3 linked regions of the Homo sapiens genome follow. The protein of the gene in region 3 purifies or fractionates together with the protein of the main gene of each other region. This does not show direct contact. Each region holds a gene or a part of one and is shown on either strand. Other genes may lie near its edges.

Region 1 (3,500 bases), on a different chromosome or scaffold from region 3:
AGTGAGGTTCATCTCAAGAATGCAAGGCTGATTTGACATTCAAAAAAAATCAATCAATGTAACTCATAATATCAACAGAGTAAAGAAGAAAAGCCACATGATTGTATCAACTGGTGCAGGAAAGACAGTTAACAAAATTCAACATCCATCCATGATTAAAAAAAAAAAAAACTCTTAGAAAACTAGGTATAGAAGGGAATTTTCTTAATTTTATAAAGCATACCTACCCAAAAACTCCACAATTAATATTTTTAACAGTGGAAGACAATGTTTTCCCTCTAAGATCAGAAACAAGACAAGGATGTCTACTCTCACCACTCTTATTCAACATCATGCCCCAGACAGTGTGATAATATTAACATTAAAGATGTAATAGGCCAGGTGCAGTGGCTCATGCCTGTAATCCCAACACTTTGGGAGGCTGAGGCGGGTGGATCACTTGAGGTCAGGAGTTTGAGACTAGCCTGGCTAACATGGCGAAACTTGTCTCTACTAAAAATACAAAAATTAGCCGGGCATGATGGCAGGTGCCTGTAATCCCAGCTACTCTGGAGGCTGAGGCAGGAGAATTGCTTGAACCCAGGAGGCAGAGGTTGCAGTGAGCCAAGATTGTGTCACTGCACTCCAGCCTGGGCAACGGAGAGAGACTCTGTCTCAAAAATAAAAACATGCAATAAACAAAAGATATATGTTGTAATGCCTAAAATGCACAAGCACACACACATACACACAGGTAAATGTAGGCAACTGAAAAGATACACATGTAAGCTTGAACCACAAGCAAGCTAAATACACCTATTTTCTCCTGTATTAATACAGTCTTTATTAGGCTAGAACACAGTGGTGCCAACCTGGCTCACTGCAGCCTTCACCTCCTGGGCTCAAGTGATTCCCCCACCTCAGCCCCACCAAGTAGGTGGGACTACAGGTGTACAACACCACACCCAACTAATTTTTGTATTTTTTGTAGACACGGGGTTTCACTAAGTTGCCCAGGCTGGTCTTGAACTCCTGAGCTCAAGCGATTTGCCATCCCGGCCTCCAAAAGAGCTAGACTTATAGGCATGAGTGACTGTACTTGGCCAATAGTTTTTAATAGAGAAAATCTGAAGTAAAGTATCAATCACCTCAGCTTATTAACATGTATAGAAATCTATATTCAATAACTACAGAATAGGCCAGGTACAGTGACTCATGTCTATAATCCCAGCACTTTGGGAGGCCAAGGCAGGAGGATTGCTTGAGTCCAGGAGCTCAAGACCAGCCCGGGCAACATACTGAGATCCCATCTCTAAAACAATAAAATAAAAAAAAACTATAGAATATATATTCTTCACAAGTACACGTGAAAAATTAAACAGGATAGATCATATTCTAAACCATAAATAAAATAATCTCAGCCAGGTGCAGTGGCTCACGCTTGTAATCCCAGCACTTTGGGAGGCTGAAGCAGGAGGATTGCTTGAAACTGGGAGTTCAAGACCAATCTGGGCAACACAGCAAGACTCTGTCTCTACAAAAATAAAAATAAAAAATGTGCCAGGTGTGGTGGCATGTGGCTGAAGTCCTAGCTCCTCATAAGGTTGAGGCGGGGAGACTGCTTGAACACAGGAGTTCGAGGTGGCAGTGAGCTATGATCATATCACTGCACTCCAGCCTGGGTGACAGAGGGACACCTTGTCTCTTTCTTTCTTTTTTTTTTTTTTTTTGAGACAGAGTTTCGCTCTTGTCGCCCAGGCTGGAATGCAGTGGCACAATCTCAGCTCACTACAAACTCCACCTCCTGAATTCAAGCAATTCTCCTGCCTCAGCCTCCAGAGTAGCTGGGATTAAAAGTGCCCGCCACCATACCTGGTTAATTTTTGTATTTTTAGTAGAGACAGGTCTCGCCATGTTGGCCAGGGTGGTCTCAAACTCCTGACCTAAGGTGATCCACCCACCTCGGCCTCCCAAAGTGCTGGGATTACAGGCATGAGCCACTGCACCCGACCAAGACCCTGTCTCTTAAAAAACTTTTTTAGGCCGGGCGTGGTGGCTCACGCCTGTAATCCCAGCACTTTGGGAGGCCAGGGCAGGCAGATTACAAGGTCAAGAGATCAAAACCATCCTGGCCAACATGGTGAAACCCCATCTCCACTAAAAATACAAAAATTAGCTGGGTGTGGTGGCGTGCACCTGTAGTCCCAACTACTCAGGAGGCTGAGGCAGGGTAATAGCTTGAACCCAGGAAGCCGAGGTTGCTCTGCTGAGATTGCGCCACTGCACTCCAGCCTGGGCAACAGAGCAAGACTCTGTCTCAAAAAAAAAAAACAAAAAACAAAAAACAAAAAAAAAATTTTAACCTAAATGATAATTAAAATGCAAAGTGTCAAAATTTGTGAAGAGCAGCTAAAGTTGTACTTAGAAATTTATATCTTTGAATGTTTACATTAGAAGGAAAAAAAGGTTAAAAAACAGTCATCTAAGTTTCCGCCTAACAATATGAGCAAACTAAATCCACAATAAGTAGAAAAAGGAAATAACAAAGAACAGAAAACAATGAAATAGAAACAAACATTAAAGAAAATTACCAAAGCCAACATGACCAAGTAAGGTTTATCCCAAAAAAGCAACGTTGATTTACTATTGGAAAATGCAATGTAATCTACCACATAACAGTTCATAAAGTGAGAAACTATATGATTATCTCAATAATTACCAGAAAAAACAAAAAGCATTTGACAAAATTTGTCCCCATTCAGGATAAAAACCCTCGGGAAACCAGAAACCAAAGGGAGCTTTCTCAATCTGATAAAGGGAACTACAAAAAAATGTAAAGTTAACATCATACTTAATGGTCAGAGACTGGTCCTAAGATCAGGAACAAATGGCAAGGAGGCGTGCTATCTCACTTTTGCTCAGCCTGGAACTGCCTGTCCTCACCAGAGCAATAAGGGGGAAAAAATACATAAATGATACAAAACTACAACAACAAAAATTGTTCCTATTTATAGTTAATACATTGCTAACATCAAAAATTGTAAGGGAGGAAACCCTAGTAGAATAAATAAGTTTAGCTAGGTCTCAGAAGACAAGGTTAATATACAAAAATTATTTCTACCTACTAGCAGTGTATTTTTACATACTAGCAGCAAACAACTGGAAAACTTTAACCATAATTCCACTGACAATGGCATCAAAAAATAAAAGACTTAGGAAAACATTTAACAAAAAACATGCAAGATCTGGCTGGGCACGGCGGCTCATGCCTGTAATCCTGGCACTTTGGGAGGTCGAGGCAGGAGGATCGCCTAAGGCCAGGAGTTCAAAACCCACCTGGACTCTGTCTCAACAAAAAATAAAAAATTAGCCAAGTGTAGTGGCGCATACTTGGGAGTCCCAGCTACTTGGGAGATTAAGGCAGAAGGATCATTTGAGCCCAGGAGTTCAAGCCTGCTGTGAGCTATGATTCTGCCACTGCACTCCAGCCTGAGTGACAGAGCAAGACTGTCTCAAAACAA
Region 2 (2,321 bases), on a different chromosome or scaffold from region 3:
GGGAGTCTATAAAAGCTGTGGGGAGAACTAGCTTCCTCAGCTGTAAATCTGTACTTTTTTATGGTTCTCTAGGATTATTCTTTTTTTCCACTCTCACTCTAAACTGCCCAGCCCCCCACCCCACCTCTTAAGAACTGCTGAAGATAGAGGCTAGAAGCTTCTGTGAGGATGAGGGCTATAGGAAGGAAGGTGTGAATAAGGGCAGGACTTCTTGGTGTTGAGCTGAGTTCTCTTGCTGTGTCTGATATGAGGAGTGAGGGAGGAACTTAAGGGAGGATAACTTTTTTGCTGTTCTCTTATATGAGGGCCTCTGGCAATGCCACTTATTTCTGATTATTGGAATCCCCCCAAAATTTAACCTCCCCTTCTCTTGCCATATCTAGACTTTTCTTGTTTTTCCCTTCCAAAGGGATTTAAAATTACAGGTTTCACATCTTTCCAGATTCTTTGAGTCCAAGGTGTCCCTAACTTTCTTGTTATCTCTTTCCCTTATGTTATTCCTGTATTTAGGTTTCTACCTCCCGGATCACTTTCAATAGGATAGATTAGAATGTAATATTGTTTAGCAACTACTTAGGTTTAATTTCTTATTCTACCACACTAGCTCTGAGACCCTGCGCAGATAATCATTCTCTTTTCAGACTGTACCAAAAGGAACCCCATTGTGAAGGTTGCTGTGTGAATTAAGTGATATTCTCATATCATGTATTCACACTACAATTTGCTTACCATAATTTGCATAGTAATTATTCAATAAATATTAGCTTTTACTGGGTGATCAGGGTACTGTGGAAATACATATTTCTTTCCCTGAGTAGGTTCTAGCTAGGTATGAGTGCCCTAGTTTGAACATGTTTGTGTGTGCATACACCCAGTTAATGCAGTCGTATTTTGAGAAAAAGAAAAGGCAGAAAGAGTCCCATTCACTCCCTCAAGCCCAGCTCACTGGCAGGAAAGCTGGACATTGTTGCTTTGGAGCATTGATTTTCCTGCTTCTACGCCACTACAGACCAGAAGCTGTAGATGCCACTGCCTGCTGATTCTTAGCTTGGGGCCCCTGCCATTTAAAATATAGGCAAGGTCAGAGTATAGGATAGCTTCCCATGCCTTCGGTTGGAGGATGTTTTAGGATAAAGAAAAGACTTGTAAAAAGTCATCTTGAGTAGTCTTTTTTTGGGTGTTCTCTCAATATAGGAAACAAATGAGCCACAGGGAGAGAAAACCCATTTTCAGCTCAGGCCAAAGTTAGGGGTAGATGTGGATATGGTTCCCTTGGGAAGATAGAATACATAACACTTCTGCTACTCAACCACTTCCAGCCTTAGTCTTGTAGTTGGTCTCGAGTGGGGTCAGTGTGCTGATAGAACTGATAAGACAGGGAAAACATGGCAGTACATTGAACCCGCAGTAGCGCTGTCCCCAATTCTGGATCAGGTTGATGTCACAGGAGCTTTCCTTATTTTTATTTTACTTTAATTATTTTTAGAGACAGTGTCTTACTGTGTTGCTCAGCTTGGAGTACAGTGGCTATTTACAGGCCCAATTATAGCACACTGCAGCCTTGACCCTCTGGCCTCAAGTGGTCCTCCTGCCACAGCCTCCTGAATAGCTGGAACTACAGGAGCACACCACTGGGTCCTGCTTTCCTTTTTTTTTTTTTTTTTTTTTTTTTGGAGATGGGAGTCTCACTCTGTCACCATGCTAGAGTGCAGTGGTGCGATCTCAGCTCACTGCAACCTCCGCCACCTGGGTTCAAGCGATTCTTCTGCCTCAGCCTTCCATGTAGCTGGGATTACAGGCGCACGCCACCACGCCCGGCTAATTTTGGGTATTTTAGTAGAGATGAGGTTTCACAATGTTGGCCAGCATGGTCTCGAACTCCGGACCTTGCATGATCCGCCCGCCTCGGCCCCCCAAAGTGCTGGGATTACAGATGTAAGCCACTGCGCCCAGCCAGCTTTCCTTATTTTTGAAAAATGTGAGTCAGGCAATATTCTTTTGCCATTCCCAACTCATATTCCTGGGGAATTGTGCTCTAGGTACATGGGAAAAATTTTTACAGTGAACTGAAAGAATATTTGAGATGCTATTTTAGCCACTCTTGTGTAACAAGGCAAGTTCGTTGGCTATGTTGGTTTAGATTTTTGTCAAACTTCGTTGAGGAAACCTAGGAACAGGGACTGCAGGAGAATAGGACACTAGCTGGATCATCTCAAGAGAACCTTTAGATCTTCCATACTAGCTGGATCATCTCAAGAGAACCTTTAGATCTTCCATTCTGTGGAGGCTGGGAGAGGGGTCTTGTTGTCTTTGGGACTGTT
Region 3 (4,219 bases):
GTGACTAGAATCAGAGTGGCAGCAATGGAGGTGGCGAGAATAATTGCATTCTGGATATAATTTGCAGGCAGATGTAATAGACTTCCTGATAGATATGAGTGTCATAGGATATAGAAAAATCATAGATAATTCCAAGAATTTGGTTTTAGCAGTAGAATGATGGCAATTGGGAATAATTCATAATTTTTTTTTTCTAAAGTGACAACAGTCATTTTTTTCAAAGAACTTCAGTCTGGAACTATTATGTTGTTAGGACATGTGATCTTCATCACCAGTATCTCGAAATCCTAAAATTAGAAATATGACTAGCAATTGTATGTTTCTAAGTAGGGGAGCCATCTAGCCAAAACATTATCCCATGTGTGGAGTTCTTTCTAAAACATACCAGATATATAATCAGCTAGCATCAACTTAAAATATATCTATGGATACCAGTCCACTGATAGCTTGGCTTGGTAAAAAGTTGCTTCACAAGCCATCAGGTGCTATCTCACTTGAAAACACATAATATAAAGCCCAGAGAGACTAAATAGCTAAATTTCAAAACAAAACCTATAAGAGAACACAAAAATGAAAATCTCTAAATCAAAAGAAATGAAAACTACCTCTCCAAAATAAAAGAGAAAGAGAGACATAGACAATTTGTAGAAAAGTTAAATATACATTAAGCATGTATTTGAAGTTCGACTTCCCCATTACTCACAGACATAAATAAAAATTAAATATTTATATATAATATTTCATTTTTAGGACTTGGCAAGTATTCAAAAATTGATAACACATGAAGCAGACAGAAAAAAGTACATCTCCAGGAATTTTATGCTGAATGATTTATGTATAAGAAAGGTTATACTAGCCATCCTTGTCTATAAAATGTAAATGCACTTATTTATGCAAAAACAATTTGGCTAAGTAATTTAAACAGTATCCATTCTATAAAATTTATACAGTCATTGGAAATACAGTTTTTGAAAATAGTAAATGGGAAAATACTAATAGTATAATAGAAAATTTATAAGTATGCTATACATTTTTATTCAAATAAGAAAACTGAGGAAGAACAATAGATCAAAAATATTTTGTCTCTTTTAACTTCTTTACAATTTTTTTACTTCTTTACAATTTCAAAATTTCCAAATTTTCAACAAATACAGCAGTTTATAATCAGAAATGAATGTAGATATTAATTCTGTAACTCACATTACATCAACATGTGAATCAAGACATAACAGATCATAGGCACAGTTATAACCATTTAATAGACATGAATAGCATCTTTCTAGGCAACATATAACACCTCCAAATTTAACAAAAGCCAAATTTCTTAGTATATAAAGATAATTAAGAAAGTTTAGAAATCTAATGGACTGGATGTTCAAACTCATTTATAACTAAAGTGTCATGAATTCAAACATCAGGACATCATTTTCACATATTAGACTGTAAAACTGAATGTAGTAGAAAACTGAATGTAGTAGAAAAAACAAAAAGGACTGATGAGGGTGTGGGAAGCTGACACTCTTGCAACTGGTGATAGGAGAGAAGAATAGTTCAGCTTTTCTGGTAGGTGGTTTGACTGTGTGTGTGTGTGTGTGTGTGTGTGTGTCCACGTGTCCAGTCATAAATGAAAAGACATACATTTGTTTACAAATTTTTCTTGCTGAATTGTTTTTGATAATTAAAGACCTATTTTTCATCAGTAGCGGAGTAATTAATGTGAGGCAATTCATCTGCTCCTCCTCAAAGTTTTACTTATCGATTAAAAATAATGAACTAGGTTTATGTATGGATAAGATGTCTCTAATATATTGCTAGTACATTGCAGAACAATTCACATGGTGCATTTGCAATTGCATTTTTTAAAAATCTAAAAGGTATACACATGCAAATATAAATATATTTGTATTTGCTAGGATATATAAGAAATTGGTAACATTGATTGATTCTGAAGGGGAAGACTGAAGAACTGGTATTCTTGGACAGACAAACATTTTTCTTTTCCTTAAACCCTATAAATCCATCGATTGCTTGATACATAAGTCAATTGCAAGTATTATTTTTTAATAAAAAGTTAACAATTTTCAAAAGTAGCATTATTAAATAGTGGAAACAGACTGTTCCTATTCATCTAAAATTAGAAGCTCCCCATTGGTCACTAGTCTGTCTATCCTGTCTTCACTCCACTTATTTCCACTTCTACCCCAAACATATATATTGTCTCTTCCATATGATAGTGCTACAGAATCTACAAACTGTCAATGGACTTGTTCACCATATCTAAGAACATGAAAGTGAGGGCCTCCCTCTGAAGGTACCCTCCGGGCAAAGAAGAATTCAAGATGGTAGGAGAACTAATAGGACACAACAATGAAATAGATACAACAGAATAATCGAAATGGAAGTGAAGTGAGGCTGAACTAACATTGGATAGTTATGTAGAGAGACAGATAGGGTGGCTCAGAGCATTAAGGAAATTCTTGTCTTTGGAGAAATGCCTCAGAGGACATCCCAGCTTGCTAGATGCCCCTAACAGAAAGATTCTCAGAGACTAGGGGCATGGAGCTGCCAAAATAAGAGCATTCTGCTGCTCTTTGTTGGCCCAGATTTTTCCTGCAGATTCCCTCTCTTCCCATCATGATACCAGGGGAGCCCAAGGGCAACAACTCATCCTAGTCATCATCTCTGCTTTATAGGGTTCCATTACCTTTGGTCACCCGAGTTAGCAACCCACAGATAATGAAGGTCAGCATCAGGATATTCATGGCTCCTGGGAGAGAGGAAGCTCTGTGTCCTGAGGAATACAGAACACTGCACAGCAAGGAATTTAAGTGGTCACCTTTACTGGTCTATCATGGGTGATGAACCAGAGAAGGGGAAAATGCCATGCCACCCAGATCACCAGACCATTAATTTGCAACACTGAGTGTGCATGACACAATAACGTCTGCTTCTAGAAATTATTAAAGAAAGCTGAGGCCTTATGAGATAAGCTATTATCCCGTAGAACTGTAAGGTCTGATGGAAAGAAACAGCCCCAAGAGGAAGTTTTTGTTAACTTTAGATGGGCTCAATTGTCCTTCTCCTCTGTCTGTATGCAGCACTTTGTACATACCCAATGACAGCAGAATGGTGTGTAAAGATATCACTTGTGGCAGTTCAATAGCTTACAACATCCGGTATTCACCTTTTCTTCTGAGTGATCACCCCGATATGAATTCCTGTGAAACAAGAAAGACACTTTTTAACTAATAAGTTCATAAGATTCCATCAATTATGAGACAGAAGGAATTTGGAATGAAAATAGTGAAAACAGGAAAACAGGTTTTATTGGTGCTCTTCTTTTTCCCGTTCCGCTGTCCCATCAACTCTTTTCCCTCATTCAGAAATACAAATAAGAAATGAAATATTGAGAGAGAGGAAACATTTTAAAAGGAGAGGGAGAGAGAAAGAGAGAGAGGAGAGAGGCCCAATGTAACATTATGCCCCCCATCCCCACTACCAAAGGAGAAAAATATAGGAGACATTTGTGAAATTGCCCAGTAGGAGTGATCAGCATTTTATCTCCTGGAAGAGTTTGCTGAGCTGTATTTCTCCCACATATGTTTAATACCAAGGAAATCAGGAAAATTTTAAAAAAATTTTCTAAACAGCTGCACTGTTTAGAAAAAAAACTGCAGCTCACTGCCCATGTTCATTTAATTTTACATTAACATGCTCTGGAGGCTGACTGATGTTCAGTGTGAAAATAAAATATACAAACTGTTCTTGGAATTATTTTTAAACAGAACTAACATCAGAATCATCTGAATAATCAGAATCATCTATTTTGGAAAAAACCGGATTCATTAAATGACTCTTTGGCCCAAAACTGTTTGAGAACAATGTTAACATGGGAATGCTATGCTTTCTAGAATTTGACATTTTCAGCGATCAAGAATTTCTATATTTTGTAAATGGAAATACCACTGCTAACAACAAGATGCTATAAATAGAATGATGATTTGTGTTTTCAAAGTCGATATATTAGAACGATGTGAAAATAATAATAAAGGCGAGATATTTTGTGGCAAAGTTATCTCAGGGTAAACCCTGCAGCTGCAAGTGCCACCAGCGAGTATTCTGGGTGAAAATGGGAAAAGGGTTAAAAATGCAGGATGGCCAAAGCCATCCTAAGCAAAAAGAACAAAACTAGAGGAATCACATTACCTCACTTCAAATT

Evidence for each region. The genes of interacting proteins can lie anywhere in the genome.
Region 1: the proteins of DEFB125 (region 3) and LMLN purify together in Homo sapiens (affinity purification with mass spectrometry; one large-scale study listed by BioGRID and IntAct). This does not show direct contact.
Region 2: the proteins of DEFB125 (region 3) and GDF11 purify together in Homo sapiens (affinity purification with mass spectrometry; one large-scale study listed by BioGRID and IntAct). This does not show direct contact.

Annotation. Positions count from the first base shown.
Region 1 is NC_000003.12:197,963,217-197,966,716, reverse strand, and holds part of LMLN (leishmanolysin-like peptidase isoform 1 precursor), read right to left. Parts: intron 1-3,500. UniProt on the Homo sapiens protein: Metalloprotease.
Region 2 is NC_000012.12:55,753,122-55,755,442, reverse strand, and holds part of GDF11 (growth/differentiation factor 11 preproprotein), read right to left. Parts: 3' UTR 1-2,321. UniProt on the Homo sapiens protein: Secreted signal that acts globally to regulate anterior/posterior axial patterning during development. May play critical roles in patterning both mesodermal and neural tissues. It is required for proper vertebral patterning and orofacial development.
Region 3 is NC_000020.11:86,253-90,471, reverse strand, and holds the start of DEFB125 (beta-defensin 125 preproprotein), read right to left. Parts: upstream 2,801-4,219; 5' UTR 2,763-2,800; coding exon 2,705-2,762; intron 1-2,704. UniProt on the Homo sapiens protein: Has antibacterial activity.